Linked DNA regions of Homo sapiens: all the other regions are linked to region 7. The links come from fine-mapping of genetic effects on gene expression. A gene starts in region 7. Each other region holds a variant in brackets. All regions are shown on one strand. Distances are between the middles of the regions. Region 1 overlaps FARP2 (FERM, ARH/RhoGEF and pleckstrin domain protein 2). Region 2 overlaps HDLBP (high density lipoprotein binding protein). Region 3 overlaps HDLBP (high density lipoprotein binding protein). Region 4 overlaps FARP2 (FERM, ARH/RhoGEF and pleckstrin domain protein 2). Region 5 overlaps HDLBP (high density lipoprotein binding protein). Region 6 overlaps FARP2 (FERM, ARH/RhoGEF and pleckstrin domain protein 2). Region 7 holds the start of FARP2 (FERM, ARH/RhoGEF and pleckstrin domain protein 2).

Region 1 (4,301 bases), 130 kb after region 7:
TTTTTTTAAATTTAAAGATATTAAGACAATTCACTAAAATTTATTCTAAGGGGATATTTATACTTTTATACTTTTTTAGGTATGGTATTTTATCAGCTTATAGTTGAATGCCTAAGTTTCCCCTGAAAATAGCAAACAAAACTGTGTATTTATGAAAAAAAAGAAAGGAAGAAAGAAAGAAAGCCTAACCCAGGGTATGAAGATTTACCCTTCTGTTTCTTTTCTTCTAATAGTTTTATGTTTTACCTCTTCCATTTAAATCTTTGATCCATTTTGAGTTAGTTTTTGTGTATAGTGGAAGGTAGGAGTCCAACTTCATTCTTTTGCATGTGGAGGTCCAGTTTTCCCGGCAGCATTGATTGAACTGTCTGCCATGTAACCCTTGTAGAAGTTCAATGGGGGCTGGGCATAGTGGCTCAAGCCTATAGTCCCAGCACTTTGGGAGGCCACGGCAGAAGGATCACTTGAGGCCAGGAGATTGAGACTAGCCTGGGCAACATACTGATACCTTGTCTCTACCAAAAAAAAAAAAAAAAAAAAAAAAATTCCTGGCATGGTGGCACACACCTGTGGTCCCAGCTACCCAGGAGGCTGAGGCAAGTGGATCACTTGAGCCCAGGAGGTCAAGGCTAGAGTGAACCGTGATCGTACCACTGCACTCCAGCCTAGGCAACAGAGTGAAAACAAAAACAAAAAAATAAATGGACTGTAAACATATGGATTTATTTCTGGACTCTTGATTCTATCCCATGGTCTATATGTCCATTGGGCCAGTTACTTTCTGTCACTAGTACTTTTTGCTTTGAACTCAATACTCTCAACATAAAAAATTGTTTTAAAAATTACATGGAGATGTTTCCTGTCTCTGCACACACATGTTCATTGAAGCATGTGTATGAATCATGTTCTGTGTTAGCCTTGTTAGAAGAAGGTATTGAAAATGTGGAACTGCAAGCTTGGAGAAATGAATTAGCCTGTAATATACAGGAAACCTTCCCCACTTTGGGAGTCTGGGCTTTGATCAGGTGCTAGGACCACCACTCTTTCATTTCTCTCCTTGGCTGCATAGCTTTGAGCTGTTGCTGCTGGCTGGGAACTCCTGGAAGTAGGGCTCATGTTACATAGTGTTATTTCTCCTAGTAACCTCTGTGCAGGGTCTTATAGATGGTGGCCCAGGGAACTGTCACTGGGTCTTATAGATGGTGGCCCAGGGAACTGTCAATGAAAAGACAGTTGAGAGTAGCTACATAGGCAAAGGTGTAGGCTCTTGAGCCATGCATCAAACTCAGGCTCTCCACACTTCCCATGTGGCCTGGGCAGGCTGCGCCCCCTCTCTGAGGCAGGAGGTCTTGAGGATGAACAGGGAATCTATGTCAGCTGCTCAGCCCTGGGCCTTGCATGAAGTAGATGCTGTGCAAATTCAAATAATAATTTGTTATTATTAGTCAAAATCTCTAAAGTCATGTCTGGATAGCCCAGAATTTCTTGTCTTCCTGAGTTAAATATGTGTGTCAGTCAACAGACAGAAACCATGCCAGTTATTTGAGCAGAGGATGTAATAGCAAGGATTGTTAACCAGGTATAAAGTTGATGAGGTGCCAAAGGGTAAAAAGAACTGTGAAGTGTCAGGGAGGTGGCAGAACTGTGAGCCACAGTTACTACCCTAGGGCTGGGGAACAAATTTGACAGCTTGGTCAAAGGCCCACGGTGCTGAGCCTCACAGCTGGCAGCGGGGCCAGTGCATGGTGGAGAAGGCGCCCCGTGGGTCTGGGACGCACATCCTGTGAGGGAGCTCTGGAGAGGGGGCTGCTGCTTAGCCAGTGCTGGGGTCTCTGAGGGTGATGCTGCTACCTGTGGCTGGAAGGAACGGCCACTCCCAGGGCCAAGCAATTGCCAGCAGCTCACAGGGACCTC[G/A]GCGTGCGGTCTCCAGGGCTCCCTGTCACGCCCCTGTGGCCTCTCAGAGTAGGGCTAGGAGGCAGATGTGGAGTGAGAGCCACAAGCTTAGTTACCGGCCCCATCCAGTTAACGCAAATGCATCCATATGACCACCTTCTTCATTGTGTGGGGTGGACGTTTCTGTTTGGGCTGGTTTTTCATCCTGCGTTTCTGTGAGGATTATCTGTGTAGTGTGCTCCTCCTTCTGCCTTCACGCAGTATGTTGGGACTGCTCATACTAGGAGGCCCCTAGCACATTCTCCGGACACCTGCTGCTCCTCCTGTTTGTCTGAAAGGAACAGATGGTGGAAGGGCTCCAGAGCAGTCCAGGTTAGGAATCTGAGGGGCTCCCAGGACTCTCGCTTACCCTATCTGCGCAGGTGTCTGATACTGGCAGGATTCTTTTTTCTTATCTAACGCCCTGTGGTGGACGAGGTGGTGCTAATTTGAATACTTAGGAGAACCCTCCTTTCCTCCTCCCATTCTCGAACCTGCTCTTGGTGCTAATTTGAATACTCGGGAGAACCCTCCTTTCCTCCTCCCATTCTCGAACCTGCTCCTGGTGCTAATTTGAATACTTAGGAGAACCCTCCTTTCCTCCTCCCATTCTCGAACCTGCTCCTGTCCAATGTTTTCAAAGCTGATCTCAGATGACATCTTTGTGGCTGAACCTTCCAGAAGCTTCTCCTCAGCAAGAACAATACTCCGGGCTCTACCTCTTGGTTGTATCAGGGCTCCAGGGCTCCTAGCCCAGAGCAGGTGCTCAGTAGATGGTTTGAGGACTGAATTTGTTGGCACCAAGACAGGACCTGGTGACCAAGGGCACTGCTGAGGGTAGAGGAGCCCCATTGGGAGGCTCCACTAGAGGACCCTCATTGGGAGGAGCCAGAGGAGCACAAGCGGCCACAAGGCTATTCCTGACCCTCAGCCCGGCTAGTGCATCCGCCAGCTGCCCTCAGCCCGCTGAAAGGGGACTCTGTCTCTGTCTTTCAGGAGTTCATCCGTGAGGGCTGCCTTCACAAGCTCACCAAGAAGGGCCTGCAGCAGAGGATGTTTTTTCTGGTAGGTTCTCTCCCCACTCAAGCTGTGCTTCCCCCCGAGGGGGATGGGCAGCAGTTCTGTTAGGGACATCGCCTGCAGCGGCAGCCCATTGGCCTCTGGGTAGTTTAGCACTTGGAGGCTTTGGTCCAGGTGGGTAGCGTTGGAGTCAGACAGGGCCAGGGGAGGGTCACAGAGTGGGAAGAAGCAGAAAACAGCTTCCCCACCCACCCCAGGGCCAGCCTCCTTCTTCATTCCAGGTTCTGAGCACCTGACTATGGGACAAACAGAAGCCAAAAGATTGTAAAGTCCACATACATGTGGCTGCAAGAAGGTGCTACTGATGGCCCAATGGCCAGTCGGGACAGTTTCACTGTTGGCTCAGAAGCCCCTCCCAGCATGTCCTTGTTCCTACCAGTTAGTGGGTTCCAGCCTGAAACATGTGGATGAGGAGGTAACTGAGTCAGCACCAGCCAGAATTCCTTACTGCCTCCAGCTTCTCAGCCAAGCTAGCTGGGAGCTGACCCAGCAGATGCACTGGTTCCTGTGGCCCTTTCCTGCCTCTGGTCAAAAACGACCAAATGAATGAATAAAAGTCCCCTTTCTGCCAAAAATCTCCAGCAAGCTGCACAGATCTGATGTCCACATGATGAGCAGCCAGAGTCCAAGTTGGTCTGACTATTAAGACACTTGTTTGTGAAGTTCATGGATGTAAAGCTTGCTGCTTCTCAGTTCTCAGATATGTTGCTGTACACAAGCAAAGGAGTTGCAGGGACCAGCCACTTCCGGATCCGGGGCCTCCTTCCCCTCCAAGGCATGCTGGTGAGTGGTCTTGCACCCTGCCTGGGATTTCCACGTGGTGCTGGGCTGGGCCCCACCTACCTCTCTCCTGCAGAGGCGAATCCTTACCCAGCAACACTGAGAGCAGCACCTGCTGAGTATTTGGCCGCACTGGGAGCAGCACCTGCTGGGCATTTCTTGTTGGTTGTTTCTGACCCTCATGGTCATTGTTGTTATTGATGCTCAAACTGCCCTGTCTCTAGTCCATGGTTCCCTTCTAGGGAAACCTGGACTCAGCCTGTGGTCTCTGTCAGCACCTGGCAGGACAAGGCCTGCTCCCCGCAAGCTTAGAGTCAGCCTCTGCAGCAGCATCTTCCTCAGGCTGTGCCACCTGTGTGACATCCATGCCAGCCCTCTGTCCCATGTAGGCACATGCCTGGGATGGGAAGAGAAATTCCTCATTTTAGCATGATCCAGTTCATCAACTTTGTCCTTTGTGGTTAGTGCTTTTTGTGTTCAATAGAAATACTGTTCTCAGGTCATGGGGA
Region 2 (4,301 bases), 69 kb before region 7:
CAATGATCATGAGCATTTTTTAACCAATATTTTATTATTATTTTTTGAGATGGAGTCTCACTCAGTTGCCCAGACTGGAGTGCAGTGGCACAGTCTTGATCTTGGCTTACTGCAACCTCCACCTCCCGGGTTCAAGTGACTCTCCCGCCTCAGCCTCCCAAGTAGCTGGGATTACAGGTGTGCTCCGCCACACCCAGCTAATTTTCGTACTTTTAGTAGAGGCGGGGTTTCACCATGTTGGCCAGGCTGGTCTCGAACTCCTGACCTCAGGTGATCCACCCACCTTGGCCTCCCAATGTGCTGGATTACAGGCCTGAGCCACTGCGCCCAGCCTTAACCATTATTTTAAATTAAAGTATATACCATTGTTTTTCTAAACATGTTACAGCTTTTATATGCACTGGGAAACGTAAAACTCATGTGATGTGCTTTATTGGGATGTCAGGCTTTCTTGTGGTGGTATCACAAACCTGCAGTGTCTCTGCAGTGTGCCTGATGTGCACTGTAGCATTTTTGTAGAGTCAGAAGATTAAACATTTGCATTGGTTCAGTCCGGGACTGGGTAAACAAAGGGTGGCAGAACACAAAGCACTATCACTGACCTCCATAAACGACCTGATGAATGACCAAGTCTCCACCCCCACAGTAAAATATTAATTGATGTCATGAGCAGAGTGCCTTCTAGTGTGCCCTGAACACCGATCCCCACCAGTGATGATGTGTGCTTAGTAAGACTCAGTTTTACTTGCTCTCAAACCTGTTTATGCCAGTTTCACTAGTTAATGTAACTACATTTAGAAATAATTCAAAATAATGAAGGAGTGAAGAGAAATTTATCTATGGATATTAAATTTACCACACTGAAATTTCAAGAAAAACAAGTTGCCTTAAAAAAATTATGGCTGGACATGGTGACTCATGCCTATAATCCTAGCACTTTGGGAGGCCAAGGCAGAAGGATCACTTGAGGCCAAAAGTTTGAGACCAGCCTGGGCAACAAAGTGAGACCTCATTTCTTAAAAAAATAAAAAATAAAAACAATTAGCCTGTGCCTGTAATCCTAGTTACTCAGGAGACTGAGGCAGAAGGATCATTTGAACCCAATTTGAAGCTGCAGTGAGTTACAATCGTGCCACAGCACTCCAGCCTGGGAAAAAGAGCAAGACCTGTTTGTTTAAAAGAAAAAGTCAAATGGAGGAAAACCTTTAAAATCTCAGAGAATCTACACTGATTATGAGTTTCTTAAATTTTTGTTCCACTTAAATGAATGCTGAAAATCCTAGACGACATATTATCAATTTCATTTACATAAGAAGAGAGTATGTGGCCAGGCATGGTGGCTCATGCCTGTAATCCCAGCACTTTGGGAGGTTGAGGTGGGTAGATCGCTTGAGCCCAGGAGTTCAAAACCAACACAGGCAACATAGTCTGAAAGGAAAATAAATCTTGGGGCCCCCAAATCACTAAGTTAAAAGGAAAAGTCTAGCTGGGAACTGCTTAGGGCCAACGTGCTTCCCATTCTCTTCAAAGTCTCCCCTCTGTTCACTGAGATAAATGCGTATCTGACTGCCTCCTTTGGAGAGGCTCATCAGAAACTCCAAAGAATGCAACCATTTGTCTCTTACCTGCCTGTGACTTGGAAGTCCCCTCCCCACTTGGAGTCTTCCTGCCTTTGCTTCGAGCCATCCTGCCTCTCCAGACCGAACCAATGTTCGTCCTGTATATGCTGACTGATGTCTCATGTCTCCCTACAATGTATAAAGCCAGACTGTGCTCTGCCCACCTTGGGCACACGTCATCAGGACCTCCTGAGGCTGGGTCACGGGTGCGCGTCCTCACCCTTGGCAAAGTAAGCTTTCTAAATTAACTGAGACTTGTCAGATTTCCTGGGTTTACAATGGTGAAACCCTGTCTCTACCAAAAAATAAAAAATAAAAATAAAAATAAAAATTAGCCAGGCATGGTAGTATGCACCTGTAGTGCCAGTTACTCAGTGTGGAAGCTGAGGTGGGAGGATCACCTGAGCCCCAGGGGTTGAGCAGTGAGCCATGATGGCACCACTGCACTCCAGCCTGGACAACACAGCAAGACCCTGTTTCCAAAAAAAAAAAAAAAGAAAACATGTAGAATCCAGCCAGTCCCATTTCAAATAGGTCTTCACCCTGTATCAAATGACTGGTGATTAAATAAACCTCTGTGCCTCAAAACAGGTCAGTTAAGGGGGCTTTAACCATACACCCAGTGTCAGTGAACAAGAAGAGGCAGTTTGTTGTTGTTGTTTTGAGACAGAGTCTCACTCTACTGCCCAGGCTGGAGTGCAGTGGCGTGATCTTGGCTCACCGAAACCTCCGCCTCCTGGGTTCAAGCGATTCTCTTGCCTCAGCCTCCCGAGTAGCTGGGACTACAGGCGTGCGCCACCACACCTGGCTGATTTTTGTATTCTTAGTAGACACAGGGTTTCACATTGTTGGCCAGGCTGGTCTCAAACTTCTGACACCGTGATCCACCCGCCTGTCTCCCAAAGTGCTGGAATTACAGGCATAAGCCACCGCGCCCGGCCTATTTCTTTCTTT[C/CT]TTTTTTTTTTTTTTTTCTGAGACAGGGTCTTACTCTGTTGCCCAGGCTGGAGTGCAGCAGCACAATCGCAGCTCACTGCAACCTCTGCCTCCCAGGTTCAAGCGATTCTCCCACCTCAGCCTCCCAAGTAGCTGGACTACAGGTGTGCGCCACTATGCCTGGCTAATTTTTGTATATTTTTTTGTAGAGACAGGATTTTACCACATTGGCCAGGTTGGTGTTGAACTCCTGGCCTCAGTGATCTGCCTGCCTTGGCCTCCCAAAGTGCTGGGATTACAGGTGTGAGCCACTGCGCCTGGCCTGCAGCTATGTGTTACGTTGATATGTAACCAGTCGTGTTAAAAGATATACATGTTTGTACATGCATAAGACCTCTCTAGAAGGAAACTCAAGTCATTGAGAATAGCAAAAGGACAGGAAGTCCAGAGCCCAGTCCTCAACAAGCATCAACATGAACAGCTGGGTAAAAGATGGACTTGAAAAGACAATTCTGCTGTGAAGCTGTAGAATGTGAAGACGGGAGGGAAGACCATGAAAAATGGCACATATTCCTACACCACATACCCCCAAAGTGTGTTTTAATAGGAAACTATGGATGGACATATGCTAAGTGTTTGTGAGAGTTATCAGCAGAAGGGGAAAGCTCTGTATTATATGAGGCTCTTTACTTTTCAACAAAAATACCTCCACCTGGAGAGGGAAAAGAGGACACTTAAGTATCACCAGGTACTACAAATCAGTGAAAAACAGAGTCACAAAATTTATTTTCTCTGCTGTGCTATTCTCATTACAATTGCCACGTTATCTGCAAGACGTCTGAATTAAAATTTTTTTTTGTTAATTTCCTTTTGAGGAAGTGGTGATGACTTTACATGAACCTATTCAAGCCTTGGAAACTGAGAACAAGATACATAAGAGCTGTCTTTACCATGTGGAGAGCATTTAAAGGGGGACTGAGTTCTGTCCAGTTGCCTGCACAACTAAGAACAATTCTGAAGACACATTTCATCTCAACATGAAGAAAAGGATCACTAAGAGTGAGCATGCTTTCCTGAATTAGCACCTAGGAAAAAAAATGGGCAGAGCTTATTCCCACTGTGAAGTGTACTCTCCACTGGGTGATCATTTAACTTACATGACTCCTTAGGGTCTCCTCCATCTTAAGTTTCTTTGACTCACTGAAGAAACAAACCACTGCTTCTAGGTGGAAATGCATCCGTATGACCCATGGGTTTACTGATGTCTCTAACTGCCATGGTAACACTAGTCTGCCACCCTGAGCCGCTGAAAGGTGTTTCATGGCAGCTCCTGCACACACACATACTCCTCACCAGGGCTTGAAGCCCACGCAGGCCCCCACCCCAACTGTAATGGTGTTCCTGGGAAGGGGATGGGAACAGAATGGCTGTAGGAAGGGCCATTCCCCTTTAGTCCTGCAATTTAAAAATCCCTTCCATCTCCTCACTATAAATCTCATTAAACTACAAGAAACAAAATAATTTGAAGTTTGACCCAGGGCAACAATTTACACTTGATGATTTTTTCCTTCCTACAATTTACATAGGAAAGTTCTATGAGCTAGAATTAGCTTAGCTCATGTTTATAAAGAACTCTGTTATGGATACAAAGCTAGCTAACGCCATGGGTGGAAAATACTTAAGAATCTGAAAGATTAATCTTGGGCTCAGTCCTATCCAAATAGAAACAATACTTTTCTACAAACAAGA
Region 3 (4,301 bases), 49 kb before region 7:
CTCCTGCAAGTGGCTTCACTCTACCAGGCTCTACTTTTTCATTTTTGAGACGGAGTCTCGCTCTGTCTCTCCCAGGCTAGAGTGCAGTGGCGCGATCTTGGCTCACTGCAGCCTCCAACTCCTGGGTTAAAGTTATCTTCCTGTCTCAGCCTGCTGAGTAGCTGCGACTACAGGCATGTGTCACTACACCCGGCTAATTCTGTATTTTTAGTAGAGATGGGGTTTCACCATGTTGGACAGGCTGGTCTCGAACTCCTGACCTCAGGTGATCCACCCGCCTCAGCCTCCCAAAGTGCTGGGATTACAGGCGTGAACCACCGGACCTGGCCAGGCTCTACTCTTTCCAACCAAAAAAACGGGGCCTGTGATGGCTATACCCTAGAGCCCTTTCAAGGACTGACCCTTTACAGCAGGGCTCCTCAACCTCAGCGCTGCTGACATTTTGAGTCGAATACTTCTGTTGCGGGGGCTGCCCTGTGTACCACAGGATGTAAGCATCTCTGGCCACAACCACCAGATGATTGTAGGTCACGACAACCACAAAGGTCTCTGGACACTGCCAGATGTGCCCTGGGTAACAAAAATCACCCTGGTGATAACCACTGCTAGAAATAAATAGCGTGATGACTAGTATATAGGAAGCAATGAATACAAAGTTGTTTATTTGTTTTTTTTTTTTTTTTTGAGATGGAGTCTCGCTCTGTCGCCCAGGCTGGAGTGCAGTGGCGTGATCTCGGCTCACTGCAAAGTTCCGCCTCCCGGGTTCACGCCATTCTCCTGCCTCAGCCTCCCGAGTAGCTGGGACTACAGGCATCCGCCACCATGCTCAACTAATTTTTTGTATTTTTAGTAGAGACGGGGTCTCACCGTGTTAGCCAGGATGGTCTCGATCTCCTGACCTCGTGATCCACCCACCTCAGCCTCCCAAAGTGCTGGGATGACAGGTGTGAGTCACCGCGCCCGGCCAAAAAGTTTTAATAGGTGAGGATTTTTATATCATTCATGGATTCTTAAACGTGATCACAAAATCAGATGTTTTATGAGTGACTACCAGCTCCAAGTGTTATCCTTCCAAACTTGAAAACTGAATTTCTGATAAACTGAGTTACCCAGGTTCTGAGGCATCTGTTTAAAAAAAAAAATGAAAAATGAAAAACCCACTCAGAGATTCAGCTTTTTTTTTTTGAGATGGAGTCTTGTTCTTGTTGCCCTGGCTGGAGTGCAATGGCGTGATCTCGGCTCACTGCAACCTCTGCCTCCCAGGTTCAGGCAATTCTCCTGCCTCAGCCTCCCACAGCTGGGATTACAGGCATGAGCCACCACGCCCGGCTAGTTTTGTATTTTTAGTAGAGACGGGGCTTCTCCATGTTGGTCAGGCCAGTCTCGAACTCCTGACCTCAGGTGATCTGCCCGCCTCAGCCTCCCAAAGTGCTGGGACTACAGGCGTGAGCCACTGCGCCTGGCCTCAGCTTTCTTATTTTTAAAAGAAAGGAGCTGAAATCCTACAGGTCAAAAAGTACCCCAAGTCAGGCTGGGAGCAGTGGCTCATGCCTATTATCACAGCACTTCATTGGGAGGCCGAGGCTGGCAGATCATTTGAGGTCAGGAATTCGAGACCAGCCTGGCCAACACGGCAAAACCCTATCTCTACTATTGTGCATGCCTGTAGTCCCAGCTACTCAGGAGGCTGAGGCAGGAGAATTGCTTGAACCCGGGAGGCGGAAGTTGCAGTGAGCGGAGATCATGCTGTCATACTCCAGCCTGGGTGACAGGGAGAGACTCTGTCTCAATAAATTAAAAAAAAAAAAAAAAGTATCCCAAGTCCCCAAGTCATAAGGCTGATAAGAACAGGTCCAGGGAGTAGCTCTGAACCTATT[CA/C]AAAAAAAAAAAAAAACGAGGAAAAGCCCAAAATTGAAGTGAGGTCTCCTGACTCCCAGTACAGTCAAAGACACCATCCTTTCATTTTTGTTTCTTTTTTGGGGGGCGGGGGGGACAGGGGGGCAGTGTCATCCTAACCTGGATAAACATCTCAACTCTTTGTTGAGTCAGGGAGAAATAATCAATATCCTGCCTTCTGTACCTAAGACAGCAAGTACTGCTGCAGGTCTCACAAGGTCTACCTCAAGAACTTCTGAGACTACAACAGAGGGAAAAGGCAAGCCCTAGAGTGGATCTGAAAAACGCTTATTTGAAAGAATTCATCGAGACTGCTCACGCCACTTGCTGACTGTTGACTTTGACATCAGCCACTTCTTACCTCTTCCTGCCCCAGGAGAGACCTGCGGTCATAGCACTGGGGTCTCTGGGATACAGCTAAGCCTCCTGAGAGACTGGAATGGGATGGGTAGGGGCTACACGAATAATGGTTTAATTAACATTGACAGTATTAATAGATTAATACTGCAGTGGGCTTGCTGTAGTGATGGTCTACCAAGGAACTTGATTTTTTAGCTTTAAAAATATTCTAAAAGATAACTCAACAAAACAATGTAAAAACTGGCAACCCCCCCATGAGGCTTTACCAAAAAATATATTCTAAACTGTATCTTCAAAACTGTAATTTTAATTATACTTTAATTATAATTTTAATACATGATTTAAATAAAAATAGGATCTTACATGCATTCTTTCACCATCTGCTACACTTATTTTCATTTGAAAAGACACCATGGCCATCTTTCCGAGTACCAAATACAAATTTACCTCATTTGTTAACAACTACATGTTGAGTGGAGTAAACATACCTTAATAAATCCCCTACTGATAGGACCCTTGAACTAATTTTTTTTTTTTTTTGCGATTATAAACAATGCTGGAAAGAACATCCTCTGCTCACTTGGGCCTCTACCCCCACAGGATAAATTGAATTGGAAATGGAATTATATGATGACAGGCAATGCATTGATAGATATTGCCAAGGTAAAACTGCCCACCTCCCAAAGAGTTTAACTAGTTACACTCACAACACCTGATTACAGAATACCTGTCCTCTTCTCCTTTGAGGACAACTAAAATGATCATGTTTATTCTTTTTTCCAGCCTGATGTGCGGGAAATACGATTTTAATGGCAACTCTGATCATCAGTGAGACAGCAATCTTGTTGAGCTTATTGACCTTTTGAATTTCTGTACTGTGAAGATCAAACTAATCACAACCAATCCGTCGTCCACCTTTCTACCAGTGTTTCAGCAACGCTTGTGAGACAAAGCAAAATCCACATCTGGGCAACAGAGCAGTAGGAATGAACAGAAAGAATTATAAATTTAAGTGAAACTCAAGTTGTATGCCAAAAATAACATTCCTAAAGGGCACCCAGGCAAAAGTGATGAGAAAATACTATTAAAAAGGACATCTTTTGCCTCAATTAGTCACACAGTAGACAACGTAAGCTGATGACCTGAGACACCTCAGCCTGCCAAAGTTCCGTTTCATTCACAAACATTAACCTACTCTGCTTTAAGAGAAGGGCTCCCCCAAAAGGTAATTGTGCTTGCAGAAAAGCGTCAAAGTGTATACTGTTTTGCGGGGTATGCAGACCTGGGTAGATGGTAGACTGAGGCTGACTGACAAGGCCAGGTTAGGGAAGCAGTGAAGTAGCTGAAGGCACAAACTGGAGCCAAACCACTAACTCTAGCCTTTGCCTCAGGGTCTACCTCGACCTGTGATAACAACAATACTTGCCTCCTACAGGTGACAGGAAAAGTAAGAAATGTCGTGAATGGTGTGGCCCATGGTCACTTCACCACGATCCACCACCAGTACTGGGTCACTCTGCTCCAGCTCTCCAAAGGCATCAAGATCCGACTGCTAGGAGCCCCGGCTTCTTCCCTGACCTGCCCGTCTCCTACACCCTCTGGTCCTGCTCCACACTGGTCTAATAACTGGTGTTCCACATTCCTCTAACGTGCACAACACAGTCCTGCCCCCGTGCTTTTCACCTCCTGTCCATTCCTCTTATAACGCTCTTCCCCAGATCGCTGCCCATGGCTTGTTTGCTCATCTCAAGTTTGAATCAACTGTCGCTCAATCAGCAAGGCCTCCCCACTATGCCAAACTGCCACTGTGTCCCCCACTCCACTCCCCTCGATACTTTATTTTCCTCCTTTCTTCTTGTCCACATTGGACATACTGCATATCTGCTGGTCTGCTGACTGCCTGACACCGCTTACCAAAACGTGACCTCCGTGAAAGTGCAGGAGAACACACTTGCATTTTCCTTACTGTGTCCCACTTCCTGGAACAGTGTCTCCAGCACGAGCCGTTGTCAGATCAATACATTTACACTACTTCGTGAAGCACC
Region 4 (4,301 bases), 44 kb after region 7:
GTAGAACAGGCTCCCTGTGCCTGTCTCAGTTATGACCCCCAAAAGTAGCCAGTGTTTTGATCTTTAGCATTATAAATTAGTTTTGCCAGATCTTCAGGTTCATTTAAGTATGTATATATTTATCAGGTACATGAATACAATATGTACTATGTGAAAATTATCAGTGTTGTTGGTATAGCTGTGGTTTGCTTGTTTGTTCGTTGCTGGGTAGTATTCCATTGTAAAAACAAATCACTGTTTATCCATTCTGCTGTTTAATTGACATTTTGGTAGTTTCCAGTTTTGAGCTCCTATGAGTAAAGCTTCTGTGAACATTCTTTTTTTTTTTTTTTGAGACAGAGTCTTGCTTTGTCTCCCAGGCTGGAGTGCAGTGGTGCAATCTTGGCTCACTGCAACCTCTGCCTCCCAGGTTCAGGCAACTCTCCTGCCTCAGCCTCCCAAGTAGCTGGGATTACAGGCTGTGCCACCACGCCCGGCTAATTTTTGTATTTTTAATAGAGATGGGGTTTCACCATGTTGATCAGGCTGGTCTTGAACTCCTGACCTCAGGTGATCTGCCTGCCTCGGCTTCCCAAAGTGCTAGGATTACAGGCGTGAGCCACCGCATCCAACCAGACATTCTTGAATTTGTCTTTAGGTCTCTATAAACAGATATTTCTGTTGGGTTTATACCCCGGACTGGAATTGCTAGGTTATAGGGTATACTTCTGTATACCTTTAGTAGATACTGTCAGTTTTCCAAAGAGATAATACAAATTTACAGTGTTTGAGACTCCAGATGTTCTACTTTTCTTGCCAACATTAGGATTATCCATTTTTATATTCTCAGCTATTCTGGTGAGGGTCTAGTGGTATCTTATTGTGGTTTTAGTGTGCATTTCCTTGATGTAATATTGTCCAACTTTTCTTGTTGTTTATTGGACATTTGAATATCCTCTTTTGTGAAGTGCCTATTTAAGTCTTTCGGCCCATTTGTCATTAATTGGGTTGTCTGGTTTTTCCTTATGATTTGTAGATCTTTATATATGTTGACTACAAGACCTTTGTTGGGTTTGTTTGTTTGTTTTTGAGACGGAGTCTAGCTCTCTCGCACAGGCTGGAGTGCAGTGGCATGATCCCAGCTTACTGCAACCTCCACTCCCAGGTTCAAGCAATTCTCCTGTCTCAGCCTCCCAAGTAGCTGGAACTACAGGCACACGCCGCCACACCCGGCTAATTTTTGTGTTTTTAGTAGAGAGTAGTGAAAGTTTTGTATTTTTAGTCAGGCTGATCTCAAACTCCTGACCTCACATGATCCATCTGCCTCGGCCTCCCAAAGTGCTGGGATTACAGGCATGAGCCACCACACCCAGCCTCTTTGTTGGGTTTTTGTATTGCAACTATCTTCTATTTTGTGGCTTGCCTTTTTCCTATCTTAACAGTGTCTTTTGATATACAGAAGGTTGTAATATTCAGGTAGTCGATATCAGTCTTTTGGGGGTGGGGGAGCTAGTGTTTTTTGTGTCCTGTTTGAGAAATATTTGCCTACCCCAAGCTTTATTGTTGTGCCTTTCCGTGATTCATATTGAATTAATTTTGTGCATGGTGTGAGGTTGGAGTCAGTGCTTATTTTCACCTGTATGGATATGCAGTTTCCCTGGCACCATTCATGAAAAGATCATCCTCCCTGTACTGAAGGTTAAACACACATACATATGTTTGTTTGTGTGTATATATACAAATACCCATATAACTGTGAATTTTTGTGCCCGTATTTACAAACCCTGTCCTGGGTGTTGGACATTGCTGGTTAACAGGTGCCTTGTGAATGTGCTTGCACCTGCGTGGTTAGTGTCTATCGCCTTCATTAGTGTAGTCAGGCAGGGCTCCTGGAGCACACTCTGGCTGCACTACTCTAGGCAGTGCAGGGGCTCAGGTAGGACGGGGAACCCTGACCTCCCCATTGACTCACAGGGGCAGCCAGGTAGTTGAAA[A/AAG]AGGGTACAGCTAAGAGAATTTCATATTCTCTGTGCCACCTGAAGTGCACACTCAAGCTCCCACAACAGCCGTCAGAATCAGGAGCAGTGGTGGACAGTCCGGGAATCTGGCCGTGTGTGGTGCCTCTCCTGTGAGCCAGAGCTGGAGCTACTAGGATGGAGAAGGTGCAGTCCTTGCCCTTTAAACTTGCCATCTGGTAGGAGGAACACACCCAAACAAATAAACGGGTCACAGTCAGCAGCAATGCCAAAGGGCAGTTCTAGAGTCGAGTACCAACTGGTGTGTAATTAGGTAGAATTGACTGGATGAAGAGAGACCACAAATGAGCTGACTTTTTATCAGATTCTCAAAGCATTCACTGGAGACTGATAGAAGGGAAGTGAGAGAGAATTCTTCTCTAAGGGAATAGCCTGGGCATGTCATTATCCCTGCACTCAGGTGAAGCCAGGTAGTGTGAGGCTGTATCAGGGTGAGGGACTTGGTTGTATGTAGCCTCCCCACCCCAAGTACTGACTCAGGGAGAGTCATGAGGAGGACTGTCCTGGTGATCCTGGATGGAAGTGTGGACAGACAGTATGGCTTTGAAAGAACTTCATAGGGTTGTTTGGGCCCACAGTGAGTTAGTGCAGCATACTCCACGGTTCATAATTTCTGACTAGTTAACAGTCTCAGAAACCCTGGTCTGGCTGCATTCTCCCCATCCTGATGGACCACATGTGGAGCGCTGGCATGCCTCCTCCCAGATGCCCACAGGCATCAGAGTAAGTTCTTACTGGAGAAGGCCCTAAGAGATTATGTCAGAGCAAGTTCAACACAGATTTGCCCTTTTGTTCTTTAGAAATTGTATGTACAATGTCAGGTCACTTCGTAGCTCACCTTTCCATTTTAAAGAGGCGTTCCTTGTACTTTCATTCCGTATGCTGCTTTGTTACAATGGATTTGCAAGGTTTTATTTCTTACACAGTGAGAATCTGGTGACTAAACCTCAAGGGCCATAATGTCCTTTGGAACAATGAGATTTGCCTCCCCCAGTTTGCACATATTGTTTATTAATTGTGAAGATGATATATGCCTATTGGTTAAAAATTGAGATGTTATAGAAGTGAAGAAGTAAGAATGCTCTTGCCCCACCTCCACCTCTGCTTAGTTCTTTAATGATGGTTACTTTTAAAGATTTAGTGAACAGCTTTCCAAACTTATTTTTATTACATATAAATGTATCCATGGGGCATATGTGTTTTTAATAAAATGGAATCGTTTTATACATTGTATAGAAATGGAGGCCTTTTTTTCTTTTTCCTTTTAATTTTTATCTTTTGTAGAGACAGGGTCTCTGTTGTGCCGTCTGATCTTGAACTCCAGGCCTCAAGCAATCCTCCTCCCTCAGGTTGCTGAGTTCACAGGCGTGAGCTACCATGCCCAGAGTCCCTTTTATTTTTTTCTTAATTAAACTATGTGTTGTAGACTTTTTTCAATGATAACACAATAGAGAGTTCTGTGTTCTTTTTAAGGGTTGCATAGTTGTCCATTATGGATATGTCATTATTTATTTTACCAATTCTTTTTTTTTTTGAGACGGAGTTTCGCTCGTCGCCCAGGCTGGAGTGCAATGGCGCAATCTTGGCTCACGGCTTACTGCAACATCCGCCTCCCGGGTTCAAGCTATTCTCCCGCCTCAGCCTCCTGAGTATCTGGGATTACAGGCGTGCACCACCATACCCGGCCAATTTTTGTATTTTTAGTAGAGACAAGGTTTTGCCATGTTGGCTAGGCTGGTCTCGAACTCCTGAGCTCAGGTGATCCACCCACCTCAGCCTCCCAAAGTGCTAGGATTACAGGCATGAACCACCGTGCCCGGCCTATTTTACCAATTCTTTACTGAATTTGTCCTTAACATGTTTAGGTCTGTACAGTTGTATGAAAGTATCTGTAGGAAAAAGTTCTAGAAGTAGAATTACTGGGCAAAGGTAAATGCACACTTTAAATTTTCAAAGGTGTTTTCAAATTATCAGGTCATATGAACTTACATTCTTCCCAGCACTCTGTGAAAGTGGCTGTTTCTCACAGACACACCAATATTGGCATCATCATTCTAACCCTCTTTGATGGGTGAAAAATATCTTACTGTTTTATTATTAAAGAAATTTAGTATCTTTTTAAATGCATAGTAGCCATTTGTACATCTTCATCTAATAAGAGCAAAATAAAACATTGTAACTTTTTCCATTGTGATTCTAGATAACTTTGTTAAATGTGTTTCTGTTCAGATGTTTTTCACTTTTATTTAAGTCAAGTCTGTCCATCTTTCCTTTTTGCTATGCTTAGGA
Region 5 (4,280 bases), 100 kb before region 7:
ATAAGCATGTATGAAACGTCGGGGAGCCCAGAGCAGTGCAGTGCTTCTGCCAGGTGGTAGAGAGCAACAGCCCCCACTTCAGGTTTGCAGTGATCCTCGAGTCTGGCCTTACATGAGAACCACCTGGGATGCCTTTGAGAATCCAGAAATGTCTGTCACAATCTCTGGAGATGGTACCCAGGCATCTGGGCACCCAGGGTGTGGCCAAGGCCAAGACGCTGCCACACAGTCTCTGTGCCCTTCTAGCACAGCACACAGCCATGGAGAACAAGACGTGCAGGTGACCTGGGGAGGATAAAGGAAATGTGGCCCCAGGGAGTCCAATCCGGTTCCAGTGCAACGTGGGATTTGTCGACTTCCATTCTCTAAGGCCGCACACCACAACACGCTACTCCTTAGAGGGGGCCAAGAGACGCAAGGCCAGTGCCTTTCTAGAGGGCCCAGCCATGGCACTTACCATGCGAGATGCAAGCTCCAGCAGCTCTCGCTTGGCCTGCTGCACGCCCTGTGGGTCCCCCTCGATGCGGATCAAATTGCTCTTCTCACTGTCAGGAGGGATGCGCACGGACACCTTGTACTGGTCTTTGATTCTGTTTACTTAGGAACACAAAAGGAAACACATTTAGGACACAGACCAACAACATTCTGCCAATGACATAACTGGGCAGGACAGCGCTAAAGCGCTAAATAACCTTATCTGTGATTCCCATCACCAAAAACGATGCTTAGCTTCCCAAACAAAAATCTCCATTGTCTAGAATGGGGGCCAGTTATGATCTTCACCTGGATCACAAGGGTTCTGGAGGACAGGCTCTCAGCCTGGACCAGAAGCTGGAAATGCCCCGAGACCTTCAAATAACTGACGGTTGGGGCCACTCAGTCTGGGATTTAGCTCGTCTGGGGTATTGGCCAGGGCTTCAGAATAGTTGAAGGATTCCAGGTGTTTCTAATGTGCAGTAAGTTTGGGAACTACTATTCTCAAGTTAAAAAAACCACACACATTAACTCCACACAAAAGCACTCACTGACGCCTAAGAGCCTTGTGGGGCCCATGCTGCTGCCCAGAGACCCCATCTACTGTTGGCTCAGATTCACACTGAGCACTTCACTGTGTCTGCAAGACAAGTGCTGTTGCAAACCCTCCTGCTGTCAACCTCTCTGGATAGAACCCAGTACCCCCAAGTTAAGAGTTCCAGGCCCCCCAAACTCTGGAGAAGCCGTATCATCAGGAAACAAGGCAGGAATCTTGCCCACTGTGCAGTAAAGGGAAGCCCAGCTTGCTGGAAGGACCACGAGGAGGGCTTTTTGTGCGTCCATCCCAAACACATGCACACGCAGAGGCAGCAACGAGGCGATGCACTGAGGGGGGAACATGGACATGCAGCTGTGCCAGGTGAAGCAACACAAGACAAGAGAAGCAGAGGACATGGGAGCTGGGCAGCAGGTTTTTTTAGATTACGAAAGAAGACAAGAGTTAGGAACTGCATGAGAAGAAAACAGAACAGACATGACTGACTAAGCTACATTCTGCAATTTCTCGGGGGCAGAAACCAGAAATTAATGTTAGATTTACACTACTGTACTTCCATATATATGTGTTTTGAGACAGGGTCTTGCTCTGTCACCCAGGCTAAAATGCAGTGGCACGATACAATCACAGCTCACTGCAGCCTTGACTTCCTGGGCTCAAGTGATATTCCTGCCTCAGCCTCCAGAGCAGCGGGGACCACAGGCCTGGCTAAATTTTTCTTTTTTGTAGAGACAGGGGTCTCACTATGTTGCCCAGGCTCATCTCGAACTCCTGGGCTCAAGTGATCCTCCTGCCTTGGTCTCCCAAAATGCTGGGATTACAGGCAAGAGCCACCGTGTCAGGCCTAAACAAACGCTACAGTTAACCAAAACCAAAACAAAACCGTAAAAGCAAGTTTATGGTGTATGTGTGGTTCAAGTAGTGCGCAAAAAGGTCACTTTGTGCCTACAGACTCTCGTCGCTGTCACGTAAAATGCCCACAAAACATAAGACTGACACCAGAGAGCTCACCATTGCACAGGCCACAGCACAGCTGCCAAGGCTATGTTTACTCATAACAAAAACGGATACACGGACGTCAGTCATGTTATGCAGGTCGGTGTCCCACTACCTGGGAAAGGCTCCTTCATCCACTGAACTATCCAGGAATGGAGGACGTGCTTGCCTTCTCACCTTCCACCCAAAGGTAACACACGCGACGTGTGCACTTGTTTTCAGAACACGCGAGTGTGTG[A/C]GTATAGCCATACAGTTAAACAAAGAGGTGTAAAAAAACATTCTTGGTTGGGCACAGTGGCTCATGCCTGTAATCCCAGCACTTTGGGAGGCCGAGGTGGGCAGATCAACTAAGGTCAGCAGTTTGACACCAGCCTAGACAACATGGTGAAATTCCATCTCTACTAAAAATACAAAAAAATTAGCTGGGTGTGGTGGTGCACGCCTGTAATCCCAGCTACTTGGGAGGCTGAGGCAGGAGAATCGCTTGAACCTGGGAGGTGGACGTTGCAGTGAACTGAGATCACGCCACTGCACTCCAGCCTGGTGACAGAGCGAGACTCCGTCCCAAAAAACAAACAAACAACACAAAACATCCTTGGACCTGCAGCAGAATGCCCACGACACACTTCTAACAGCATCCTGTAACTGTGCTACACCTGCAACCTGGCACAGGTGAGGCACACAGCGACCTTGGCCCACATGACATACTTCCAACAGTGTCCTGTAACTGTGCTACACCTACAACCTGGCACAGGTGAGGCATATAGCGACCTTGGCTGACATATCACTGCCTCTTCAACAGAATCCCCCTGCTGGGTGTGGTGGCTCACACTTTTAATCCCAGCACCTTGGGAGGCCAAGGTGGGCAGATCACCTGAGCCCAGGAATTTGAGACAAGCCTGGCCAACATGGTGAAACCCCGTCTCTTCTAAAAATACAAAAATTAATTGGCTGTGGTGGCATGCACCTGTAGTCCCAGCTACTCAGGAGGCTGAAGCTGGAGAATTGCTTGAGCCCGGTAGGCAGAGGTTGTAGTGAGCTGAGATCACGCCACTGCACTCCAGCCTGGGTGACAGAGTGAGACCCTGTCTCAAAAAAGTATCCCTCCCCATGTTGTTTTACTTGGGCACAAATCTAGAATGTTTTTACTCTTCAGTGAGTTCCAGATCAGCAGTTTCCACGTTCAGAAGGCATGAGTACTACCAACACTGATTGGCTAACCTAGCAGGTCTGACGGAAATATAGAGAATGCTGCCCTTGGGCATGCCTTCAACATGGCCTCTGTGGGTTATTTGGGGAGGGCTTAGATGGATTTCCAAAAGTGACAATTCACCCACTGGCCAAGCAGCTCTAATCCAACCACTGCACCAAAGGGAAAAGGAAAAGTGGCCTCTTCCAGCAGGCAGGAGGATGTAAAGTCTGTAACTCCCATTACAGGCAGCAATGGGCCTGGACTGTCTGCACGGACGTCACAGTTCTCACAGCTGACACCCCCCACAAGGGTCTCAGGGCACACTGGCCCCACCGCAACAGACAGCCTCACTCACTGTTGGCACCGCTCTTCCCAATGAGGTGCCTGTGGAACTTGTGGTCGATGTTGATCTCCACATAGTCCATCCGGTTAATCTGCAGGAGGAGCACAGAGGTCCATGGATGCGCCTGGTTACTTGGCCAATGAGCTGAACCAAAACCCAGCAGTCTCCACGGTTGCCTTTTCTGACCACTCAGCTGTCAGGAATTGTTGGAGACTGCCCCTGCATCTCCCCTGAAAGATGCCTTCTTCAAGATGAAGTTTCCTCCACCCACGATTATTCCAGGACTTCGACCAGCTTCTGGTTGTTTCAGAACCTATTACTCACCCAGCTAGGATGCCCTGGGTGTCTGTGCCCGGACATGTGGGATGTCATCGAGAGATGACCGCCCATGCCCAACTCAGAGCCTCCCTTGTCACCAGCACACACAACATTCCAAGGGGTACCTTACCAAATCTTTGACCATGCCTTCTATCTGTTCCTGGGCCACATTGACATCCTCTGTAGGGCCCTCCAGGGTGATCTTGTCTTCGCCCTCTGTGAACTCGATGTGAACCTACCACACCAAAACCAAAGAGATAGCTAAAACAGAATGGCACAGCTGCAGCCCCTGAGCTCCCAGTGGGAGCTCTCTTCGGAGCGGCTTCTGATCCCAAACTGCTTCACATAGATGTGAGGGAGGGAGGGACATATCCACAGCCATCAAACAAAGTTGAAAGGGA
Region 6 (4,301 bases), 61 kb after region 7:
GAGGAAGGGAGAATTGGGCATTGTGCTGCGAACTGTCCAACCTGAAGGACAGTCCCTAGTGGATGGGTGGGTTTGGGATGCTGGGGAGAGTGTTGTCAGCACGTAGGCTGGGCTAACCTGTGCAGTGGGTGAAATCAGCTAGGCAGAGGGCAGATACAGGTCAGGAAGGGAGAAGAGCCCAGGATGAACCCCTGAAGAACTGACATTTGAGAGGCTGAGTGCAGGAGGAGGCACCCACAAGAGCCTTTAGCAGCCAGAAGCATGGAAGGGCACAGGTGCCAAGAGAGCATGTTTTAGGATAGTGGCCACAGCCTCTTGTGTGGAGACTACAGGCCTGGGGAGGTAGGCACAGGAGCAGGTTTCTGAGCTTGGCAGTGTGGCAGTGTATCGCCTTCAGCAGCTTCAGTGAGTGGTGAGGGTGAATTCTAGATTCAAGTACACTGAAAGTGCAGTGAGGAGGCAGTGACAACATCTTTGGGCACTTATGTCGAGAAGCCTGCCTGTGGAAGAACAAAGAACTGGACCCTCAGGGTAGTTCTGTGTGTGTGTGTGTGTGTGTGTGTGTGTGTGTGTGTGTGTGTGTCTGGGTGTGTTCTGTGTATACATGTGTGGCTGTGTGGTCGTGTGTGCATGTATATGTGTTCCTATGCATGCATTGTGTGTGTTTCTGTGTGTGGCTCATATGTTCATGTGTGTTGATGTGTGTTCCTGTGTACATTGTATACTGTGGTTATGTGTACTTGCACATGTTCTTGTGCCTGTGTCTCTGCATGTGTGTGTCCTTACATGTGCACATGTATCCGCTAAAAACCCTAGAAAGCCGGTACGAGAAGGGTGAGCCATGTGGTCTGCTTCATACGGGAATACAGTTGAACTCTTGCCGAATAAGCCCGGAAGCAGGAAGCTCTGCTCTACGTTGTAGGCCTTCACTGTGTTAATTTGAGACTGTGTCTGTCACAGTCACCACAGCTTCGTTGCACATCTTATTTCTTTTGATAATCCTTCAGGTTTTTTTTTAAAGACAATATTGTACCTTTATTTTAATTATTATACATTTCTTACATTGTCTTATGATTCTGATGGTTCTTCAGTGATCCACTGAAAACACCTTTATAATCACTGAATAGGATATTAAAGAAGTGTTTTTCTTGACTTTATCACATTGCTTTTGGATCTTTGAAACTGGAGAGAAAAGTCGGGCACAGTGGCTCATGCCTGTAATCCCAACACTTTGAGAGGCCAACAAGTTTGAGTCCAGGAGTTCAAGACACCCTGGGCAACATGACAAAACCCTGTCTCTACAAACAATTAGCCAAGTGTGGTGGTGCGTGCCTGTGGTCTCAGCTACTCAGGAGACTGAGGCGAAAGGATCGCTTGAGCCTGGGAGGCAGAGCTTGCAGTGAGCCAAGATTATGCCACTACACTCCAGCCTGGGCGACAGAGTGAGACCCTGTCTCTAAACGAATGAGCGAGTGAGTGGGTGAGTGAGTGAGTGAGTGAGAAAACGGGTTTATAAGACACAAGTGTTTCAGATAGTAAAAAATATTTTTTAAGATGAAAAGGAGATGGCCGGGCGCAGTGGCTCTCGCCTGTAATCCCAGCACTTTGAGAAGCCAAGGTGGGCGGATCACCTGAGGTCAGGAGTTTGAGACCAGCCCGGCCAACATGGCAAACCCCGTCTCTACTAAAAATACAAAAAGCTGGGCATGGTAGCGTGCACCTGTCGTCCCAGCTACTCAGGAGGCTGAGGCAGGAGAATCCGCTTGAACCTGGGAGGCAGAGGTTGCAGTGAGCCAAGATTGCACCATTTCACTCCAGCCTGAGCAGCAGAGTGAGACTCCATCAAAAAAAAAAAAAGAAAAGAAAAGAAATACCATAGATAACACTACTATCCCGTCACACTCATTTTCTTTCTTTTTCATTTCATTTTATTATTAGTATTATTATTGTTAGAGATGGAGTCTCGCTCTGTCACCCAGGCTGAAGTGCAGTGGCATGATCTCAGCTCACTGCAACCTCC[G/A]CCACCACGCCTGGCTAATTTTTGTATTTTTAGCAGAGACAGGGTTTCGCCATGTTGTCCAGGCTGGTCTCAAACTCTTGACCTCAGGTGATCCACCCGCCTCTGCCTCCCAAGGTGCTGGGATTACAGGCGTCAGCCACTGTGCCCGGCCCTCTGTGGTGTTTCTTCTGATTAAAATTTGTCTCTGCCAGTAGTATTTGTGTATAACCTTGTCACTATGGAGCAGATGTAAGGCTGAGTAGCTAGTGTATGCAAAGAAAGTGTTCTACCCGTTACAAAGTAGTTACAGAATAGAAGAAAACTGAGGATGTCTTTGGCCTGCACGTGTGGTATGCTGTTTTTGTAGTGGGTAAACACAGACAGTGAACCATCTGCCCTCTAAACACACAAAGCCTTCATTGTTGGTTTTCCTGATCGCTTCTATAATGCATTTTGGCTCTTTCAGAAATCAAGTGTTTGTAGTGTATGATTCTACCATTTTTTATTACAGGGGCCAGACACCTGCTGAGTCGGATTTCCAGGTGCTCGAAATTGCTCGAAAGTTGGAAATGTACGGCATCAGATTTCACATGGCTTCTGACAGGGAAGGAACCAAGATTCAACTGGCAGTTTCCCACATGGGTGTACTCGTGTTCCAGGTAGGCCAGTGGGGAAGGGAGGGGTGAGAACAGGGCAGGGGAGGTTTTCTGCAACCTGGTGGGGTTTGTTCTTATAGATGTTAGTAAATATTTGTCCTGATGAGTACGGGCCTCGATTTGGAAGAGGGGCTTTGCATATCATCCAATCCAACCTCTTACTCAGTGGGAAAATTAATCTTTTGTCCTTCTCTGACACACGTGTGACTGTCCTCCATGTCATGGAGCCCACTGCTTCCTGGGACTGCCTCCCGCCTCCTTGGATTCCCCACTGCCTCCTGCCCCCCAGGGCTGCCCACTGCCTCTGGGACTTCGCATTCCCTCCTGGGATTCGGCCTACCCCCTTAGGATCCTAAACCACAACCCTGTTTTTTTTCCAGTGGAGCAGTCTCTGTGCTGTGGATGTGATCTGGGCTGGACTGTGAGCGCTTTAGAGTGGGTTACAGTAATCATTTCAGTAAACAAACTAGAATAGAATAGAAAATATCAGAGGGATTGCTTGTGATAAGAGTCAGTGTTGTCTTCTGAAGTGTTTGTATTAGTTGTGATGCATAGGTAAATAATTACATAAATGGTGGGCATGGCCTGCTCACTTCCATTTGTGGTTATGTGTGTGTATGCTGGGGTTTGTGATGTCCAAGAAGCTTAAGTGTGACTGCTAGTGCCGACTAGAAGGAGCTTTTCTCCTTATTCAGGCCCTTTGCATATCTGAAGAAAGCTCTTGCGGGGGCTCCCCAAGTCCCCTCGCACCCAGGCTAAATATGTCCAACTTGTCTGGGCCCCTCCTTTTGGGAGCACTCCAGTCACTGGCCCTTGTAAAATTTTGCACCTCTGATAGACTACGGTAATCCTGAAAAGGTCTCCTCAATGCTGAATATTGTGGGAATTGTCACTATTGCAGTCTGGGAGCCCATTGCCTGCATGAGCTGCTGTTTCTTTGTGGGCTCTTTTAACCTGTGACTATCAAAAAGAGCTTGGTCTGATTCAGGCCTCCCTCATCAAGCCATGTTTATTATTGTTTTCTTTTCCTTATTTTTCTTAACCTAGCCATCAAGTTTCAATTTCCTGTCAGAAAAAAAATTAATTTTGAATTTAGAGTATTATGTTACATTTCATACTAAATGTGATTAGAGAGCAATAAAAATCCATGATAGAGACCAGCCTTAGCAATCCATGCCTTCAGGTGGAGGGTCTGAGCATCCCCTGCCTACACCTGCTGATGAGTGTTCCCCCATTGCACAGAGATGAAAACCTCATATCCAAACTGAGCCATTGCCACATTTCCAGAAAAAAACAAATAATACAACCTAAAGAAGTTGTAAAAGCAAGGGATTAGAAACTTCAGTTTGAAGATAGCAGACTGAATATATGTATTTATTTTTATTCCCTCAAAACCCTGAACACAATGACAGTTGAAGGAATTTTTTAAACATTTAAATCCGTAAGAACAAAGAATGGGAAAACAGCCCACGAAAGATGAGGATAGCAGCAATGTTTGGAAGCTGGGAAATGAAACAGGGAGTGGGACCTGACTTTGCAGAGTAGGGAAGGCTGGAATCTCACAGCCTTCAGCGGCAAAGTCACAGTGCAAGCCAACATGTTCCCAGGAGCCCCAGAAAGGGCTCACAGTTCATGCTTATGAGAAA
Region 7 (4,301 bases):
GTATTTCTCTTGGTTATTTGCAAGGGAAAGTTGTGAGGTTTTCTGGGAAAATTCAAAGTCTTGACAACATCTTTGTATAAAATCAAGAAAAATTACTTGAATCAATAGTGTCAGTACTGGACAAGTTTGTACGTATTGGAGATCCAGCCCAAAAGAAAGCACAAAAGATTGGAAAGGAATTATTTACAGGTGATCAGAACATCTACTTAGAAAGTACAAGACATCTGGTGAAAATTAACACTAAGAAGTCAGTGATATCTATTTTCTAATTAGAAAATGTAGTGAGAAAAGAAATCGCATTGATAATAGCAACTACTAAATTACTGGAAATATAAGTGAATGATTGAAATATATCTAGGAAGAAATTTCTAACCTATAAATTTTCAAGAATAGGCTAAGGCGGCTCTGCCACTTGAGTAAAGGAAACTGGAAACCTGAATTGATCTGGGTGGCTGGACACCTACACTCCAAGGCCTCTAGCCTTCTTCCTGCCCACTGGACTGATCATCCCAGGACCACCTTGGGCCCCTTTTACCTTGCTATCAGTGTTTTCTGAGCTTCCTTATAGACAGACCCCTGGATACTGAAACTTGCTCTCTCTAGTTCCTCAGCTGACAGCTGCCACGCCTGCTGCCTTCCCTCCAGACTGCCAGCCTCAGGTCACCAGCACACACCCTGCATCCTACCAGGGGTCAGTACCACCCTCTGGCCAGGCTCTCACCTGCACTATCCCCACCCGGCCCTGCCCGTCTGCAGGCAGGGATCCTCTGTTCTGGGGTGTGTGCACCACTCTGGGCCTGGTGGTGTCATTGGGGGTTGGTTAAAGGAAAAGCCCCAGAGGTGGGTGGCACATGAGGGGAGCATCCCGCACAGCTGAGCCCAGTCTTGGTGTGCCTGGGTCTCAGACCCCATAGTTGTCTCAGGAGAAATGGAGGTTCCCCTGAGCCAGCATTTCTCCTGTCTGGGCTTCTGGGAAACGAAGGGTCAGGTTTCACTCTGGAATCCACAGCACCATAGGAGGAGTCTCTTAAGTGCCCGGGTGTTTCCTGAAGTTAATTATTCCCTCAACAGCCACATGGTGACAGTGGGTGACAGGGCCGGGCTAGGAGAGCACGATGGGTAGGGTCTTGAAGAACACATAGGAGTTCAATGAACTTCTCAAGAGAAGGGAAGTGTGCCACAGCAAGTCAGTCTTCCATTCTCGGGTGGGGGTCCCTAGGCCAGAGGAAGGCCGTCCTGGCCGCCACCACGGAGCAGCCTGTCTCAGCCTTAGCACAGCCTCGCGCGATCCTTCGATGATCCCCTTCGGTCCCTGTAGTCCCACGAGGGATGCAATGCGTTGGAGGAAGGAGGAGGCTGGCAGCCAGGGACTGAGCCAAAGGGTGCAAGGACAGCCGGCAAGGCCCGGGCCAAGACCTATCCCCGCCCAGCGAGCCAGGCCTCGCCCAGCACCTATCCGCGCCCAGCAAGCCTAGGCCTCGCCCAGCACCTATCCGCGCCCAGCAAGCCTAGGCCTCGCCCAGCACCTATCCGCGCCCAGCGAGCCTAGACCTCGCCCAAGACCTAGCCCCGCCCAGCGAGCCGACTCCCCGCCCAGGACCTAGCCCCGCCCAGCGAGCCGACTCCCCGCCCAGGACCTAGCCCCGCCCAGCGAGCCGACTCCCCGCCCAGGACCTAGCCCCGCCCAGCGAGCCGACTCCCCGCCCAGGACCTAGCCCCGCCCAGCGAGCCGACTCCCCGCCCAGGACCTAGCCCCGCCCAGCGAGCCGACTCCCCGCCCAGGACCTAGCCCCGCCCAGCGAGCCGACTCCCCGCCCAGGACCTAGCCCCGCCCAGCGAGCCGACTCCCCGCCCAGGACCTAGCCCCGCCCAGCGAGCCGACTCCCCGCCCAGGACCTAGCCCCGCCCAGCGAGCCGACTCCCCGCCCAGGACCTAGCCCCACCCAACGAGCCGACTCCCCGCCCAAGATCTAGCCCCGCCCAGCGAGCCTTGGCTTCGCCTAGGACATTGCCTCGCTCAGCAAGCCGACGCCCCGCCCAACGAGCCGAGCGCTGCACAGATTTATATCCTACGCAGCTGCCTGCCTGCTCCCGCCCCTTCTCCGTCCGTTCACCAATCAGAACTCGATCTTGCGCTTTCAGGCCGCGGGACGGGAAGGCTCCGCCCTGGCGCCCCGCAGGCCAATCGACTGCGCGTCCGCGTCGCGGGGGCGGGGTCAGGGCGGGGCGCGCTGCGCGGGGGCTGCCGGCGGGCAGTTGGGAGCAGGCGACGCCGACGCGAGTCTGGCGGCTGCTGCTTGCGACTGCGGAGGCCGGGCGAGGCCGGTGAGGACGCGGCGGGCGAGCGAGAGGCCGAGGGTGAGGACGTGAAGCGGCCTGGGCGCGTGGGGCAGGGGTGGGCCTCTCCGGGTGGGCGGCGAAGCCCGAGGCCCGAGGCGAGAGGCCCAGGCGGGGGGGGCGCTGAGGCCGCGGTCCACCAGAGATGGTCCCGCCCGGCCTCTGAAGGCCATCGTGAGGCGGCTGGAGCTCCTAGGCGGGTCCGGGTTAGAGGAGCGTCCGTCTGTAGGGAGCCTGCCGCGTGGGGGCAGGCGGGGCGGTGGGCCGGGGAGTGGCCCGCGTGGACTCCCGGGTTGAGGGGTGCCGCGTGGAGGAGGCCGGTGGGGCTGTAGACCGGGGAGTGTCCCGCGTGGACTCGCGGGTTGAGTTGTGCCCCGTGGAGGCCGGCAGGGCCGTGGGCCGGGGAGTGTCCCATCCCGGAAGGACACCCCAGAGTGGGCCATAGGGACCCGCAGGGTATGGGCCTGGAGGTGCCTGGTGGAGGCATTTTGAGCCGTTTGCCTTTTTAGCATTTCTTTAAATTGTATCTTAAAGGTGGGAATCAAGTGTTAGGTGTTAATATTTTTACTCCACTAAGGGCTAGAAATACTCATAAGCCAGTGGGTAGCCTTTGGGAAACCCATGAAAACTGGGGACCAGAATATGGCCCAGTACATTACACACCCGAATTACGGGCACCTTTTCCGTTTACGCTATGGCAGCAACCCCTGGCCTATCATGTGCCATTAATGGATGTGAAAAGCAGAAATTAGAACAAGGCATCATTGAAGGAAAGATTGTCAATACATAGTGTTAAAAAGGGATGGGCAAATTTAAAACCCAAGGCCAAATCTTTAAAGGGTGGTTTTTCTCTCTGGGTTTTTGTTTTTGTTTTGTTTCCGTGGGATATTTTTGTCTGGGCCACTGTGTAAATGTTTGATAACCCTGAGGTGGCAGTGGGTTAGCGTGTTGGTCTTGTGTAGACTGCCTTATAACAGGCGACACAGATTTTCTCAGTACCAGAGAGATGGGAGAGGACATTTGAGGTAGGGAAGCATGGAGTAACCTTTACTTGTAGGCCAAATATAATTTAAATTTTCTACATCTGCTTGTTGAAAGTTTTGTTTTGTTTTGTTTTTTGAGGTCCTTAAAGGTTTAGGAAGCACTTCATGCTCGTTATTTATTCAGTTTTCCAAAACTCTTCAGAGACATGACCAAGTTGCACAGCCCCGTTTTAAAGTAGAGGAAAGGGAGGTTGAGAGAGGTGGAATGACCAGTTTAGGGTCACACCTAGGGTACTTGCAAATACCATCTGTACTTCTCATGTGCCCTATCCTTGTTGCAGATTCTCATTAGGTGGTTCACTGTTAACAAACTAAATGCTGATGATGCAGTTTCCTGGACTGCAGACGTTTGCTGGCTTATTTACCTATAGGACTATCAGTCGTTAGTAAATTTCCAGGTTCCTTGTATACTAATTCCTTTCCCAAAGAGGAAGTTGATATAAGGTGTATTCATTTCTCTCTGCCTCAGGTTCCTTATTCAAAAAATGAGTTTAAAATTTACTTGGCCAGGCACAGTGGCTGTAATCCCAGCACTTTGGGAGGCCGAGGCAGGCAGATTGCATGAGCTCAGGGGTTCCAGACCAGCCTGCTCAACAGGGCGAAACCCCATCTCTACTAAAAATACAAAAATTAGCTGGGCTGGTGGCGCACGCCTGTAATCATAGCTACTTGAGAGGCTGAGGCACGAGAATCACTTGAACCCAGGAGGTGGAGGTTGCATTGAGCCAAGATTGTGCCACTGCACTTCATCCTGGGCGACAGAGCGAGACTCTGTCTCAAAAAAATAAAAAAATAAATAAAAAAAGCTGTGTTAACAAGATGCCTGGCACAAGGTAAGTGCTTAATAAATGTTAGCCATTATTATTATCAGGTGGACAAATAATCCGAGTAGAAAGTAGAACAAGCTAACCCTGGATATTT

Evidence for each region. PIP is the estimated chance that this variant, and not a neighbour inherited with it, causes the effect. A credible set is the group of variants that fine-mapping cannot tell apart.
Region 1: its variant is the best candidate, but not a certain one, in a credible set for the expression of FARP2 in regulatory T cells (Schmiedel 2018, PIP 0.64).
Region 2: its variant is the best candidate, but not a certain one, in a credible set for the expression of FARP2 in whole blood (INTERVAL, PIP 0.57).
Region 3: its variant is the best candidate, but not a certain one, in a credible set for the expression of FARP2 in skeletal muscle (FUSION, PIP 0.58).
Region 4: its variant is the best candidate, but not a certain one, in a credible set for the expression of FARP2 in whole blood (INTERVAL, PIP 0.74).
Region 5: its variant is the best candidate, but not a certain one, in a credible set for the expression of FARP2 in monocytes after R848 (Quach 2016, PIP 0.81).
Region 6: its variant is the best candidate, but not a certain one, in a credible set for the expression of FARP2 in CD4 T cells (BLUEPRINT, PIP 0.55).

The regions. Positions count from the first base shown.
Region 1 is chr2:241,480,537-241,484,837 of GRCh38, forward strand. FARP2 (FERM, ARH/RhoGEF and pleckstrin domain protein 2) reads left to right here. Exons shown (of 27, transcript NM_014808.4): 20 at 2,929-2,997; 21 at 3,706-3,795. Among named protein-coding and RNA genes, the nearest start is that of MIR3133, 4.8 kb to the left of the region's middle. RefSeq lists enhancers at 2,507-3,007, 3,008-3,508. The variant G/A (reference allele first, on the strand shown) is at 1,915.
Region 2 is chr2:241,284,847-241,289,147 of GRCh38, forward strand. All of the region lies in intron 1 of HDLBP (high density lipoprotein binding protein), which reads right to left. Among named protein-coding and RNA genes, the nearest start is that of HDLBP-AS1, 15 kb to the left of the region's middle. The variant C/CT (reference allele first, on the strand shown) is at 2,574.
Region 3 is chr2:241,305,094-241,309,394 of GRCh38, forward strand. The region is part of intron 1 of HDLBP (high density lipoprotein binding protein); the gene reads right to left. Among named protein-coding and RNA genes, the nearest start is that of HDLBP, 8.4 kb to the right of the region's middle. The variant CA/C (reference allele first, on the strand shown) is at 1,878.
Region 4 is chr2:241,398,256-241,402,556 of GRCh38, forward strand. The region is part of intron 2 of FARP2 (FERM, ARH/RhoGEF and pleckstrin domain protein 2); the gene reads left to right. Among named protein-coding and RNA genes, the nearest start is that of FARP2, 44 kb to the left of the region's middle. The variant A/AAG (reference allele first, on the strand shown) is at 1,974.
Region 5 is chr2:241,249,384-241,253,663 of GRCh38, forward strand. HDLBP (high density lipoprotein binding protein) reads right to left here. Exons shown (of 28, transcript NM_005336.6): 10 at 4,010-4,114; 11 at 3,574-3,652; 12 at 458-597. Among named protein-coding and RNA genes, the nearest start is that of HDLBP-AS1, 21 kb to the right of the region's middle. RefSeq lists a silencer at 1,159-1,365. The variant A/C (reference allele first, on the strand shown) is at 2,265.
Region 6 is chr2:241,415,452-241,419,752 of GRCh38, forward strand. FARP2 (FERM, ARH/RhoGEF and pleckstrin domain protein 2) reads left to right here. Exons shown (of 27, transcript NM_014808.4): 8 at 2,511-2,658. Among named protein-coding and RNA genes, the nearest start is that of MIR3133, 60 kb to the right of the region's middle. The variant G/A (reference allele first, on the strand shown) is at 2,021.
Region 7 is chr2:241,354,031-241,358,331 of GRCh38, forward strand. FARP2 (FERM, ARH/RhoGEF and pleckstrin domain protein 2) reads left to right here and starts at 2,255. Exons shown (of 27, transcript NM_014808.4): 1 at 2,255-2,358. RefSeq lists a silencer at 2,043-2,592.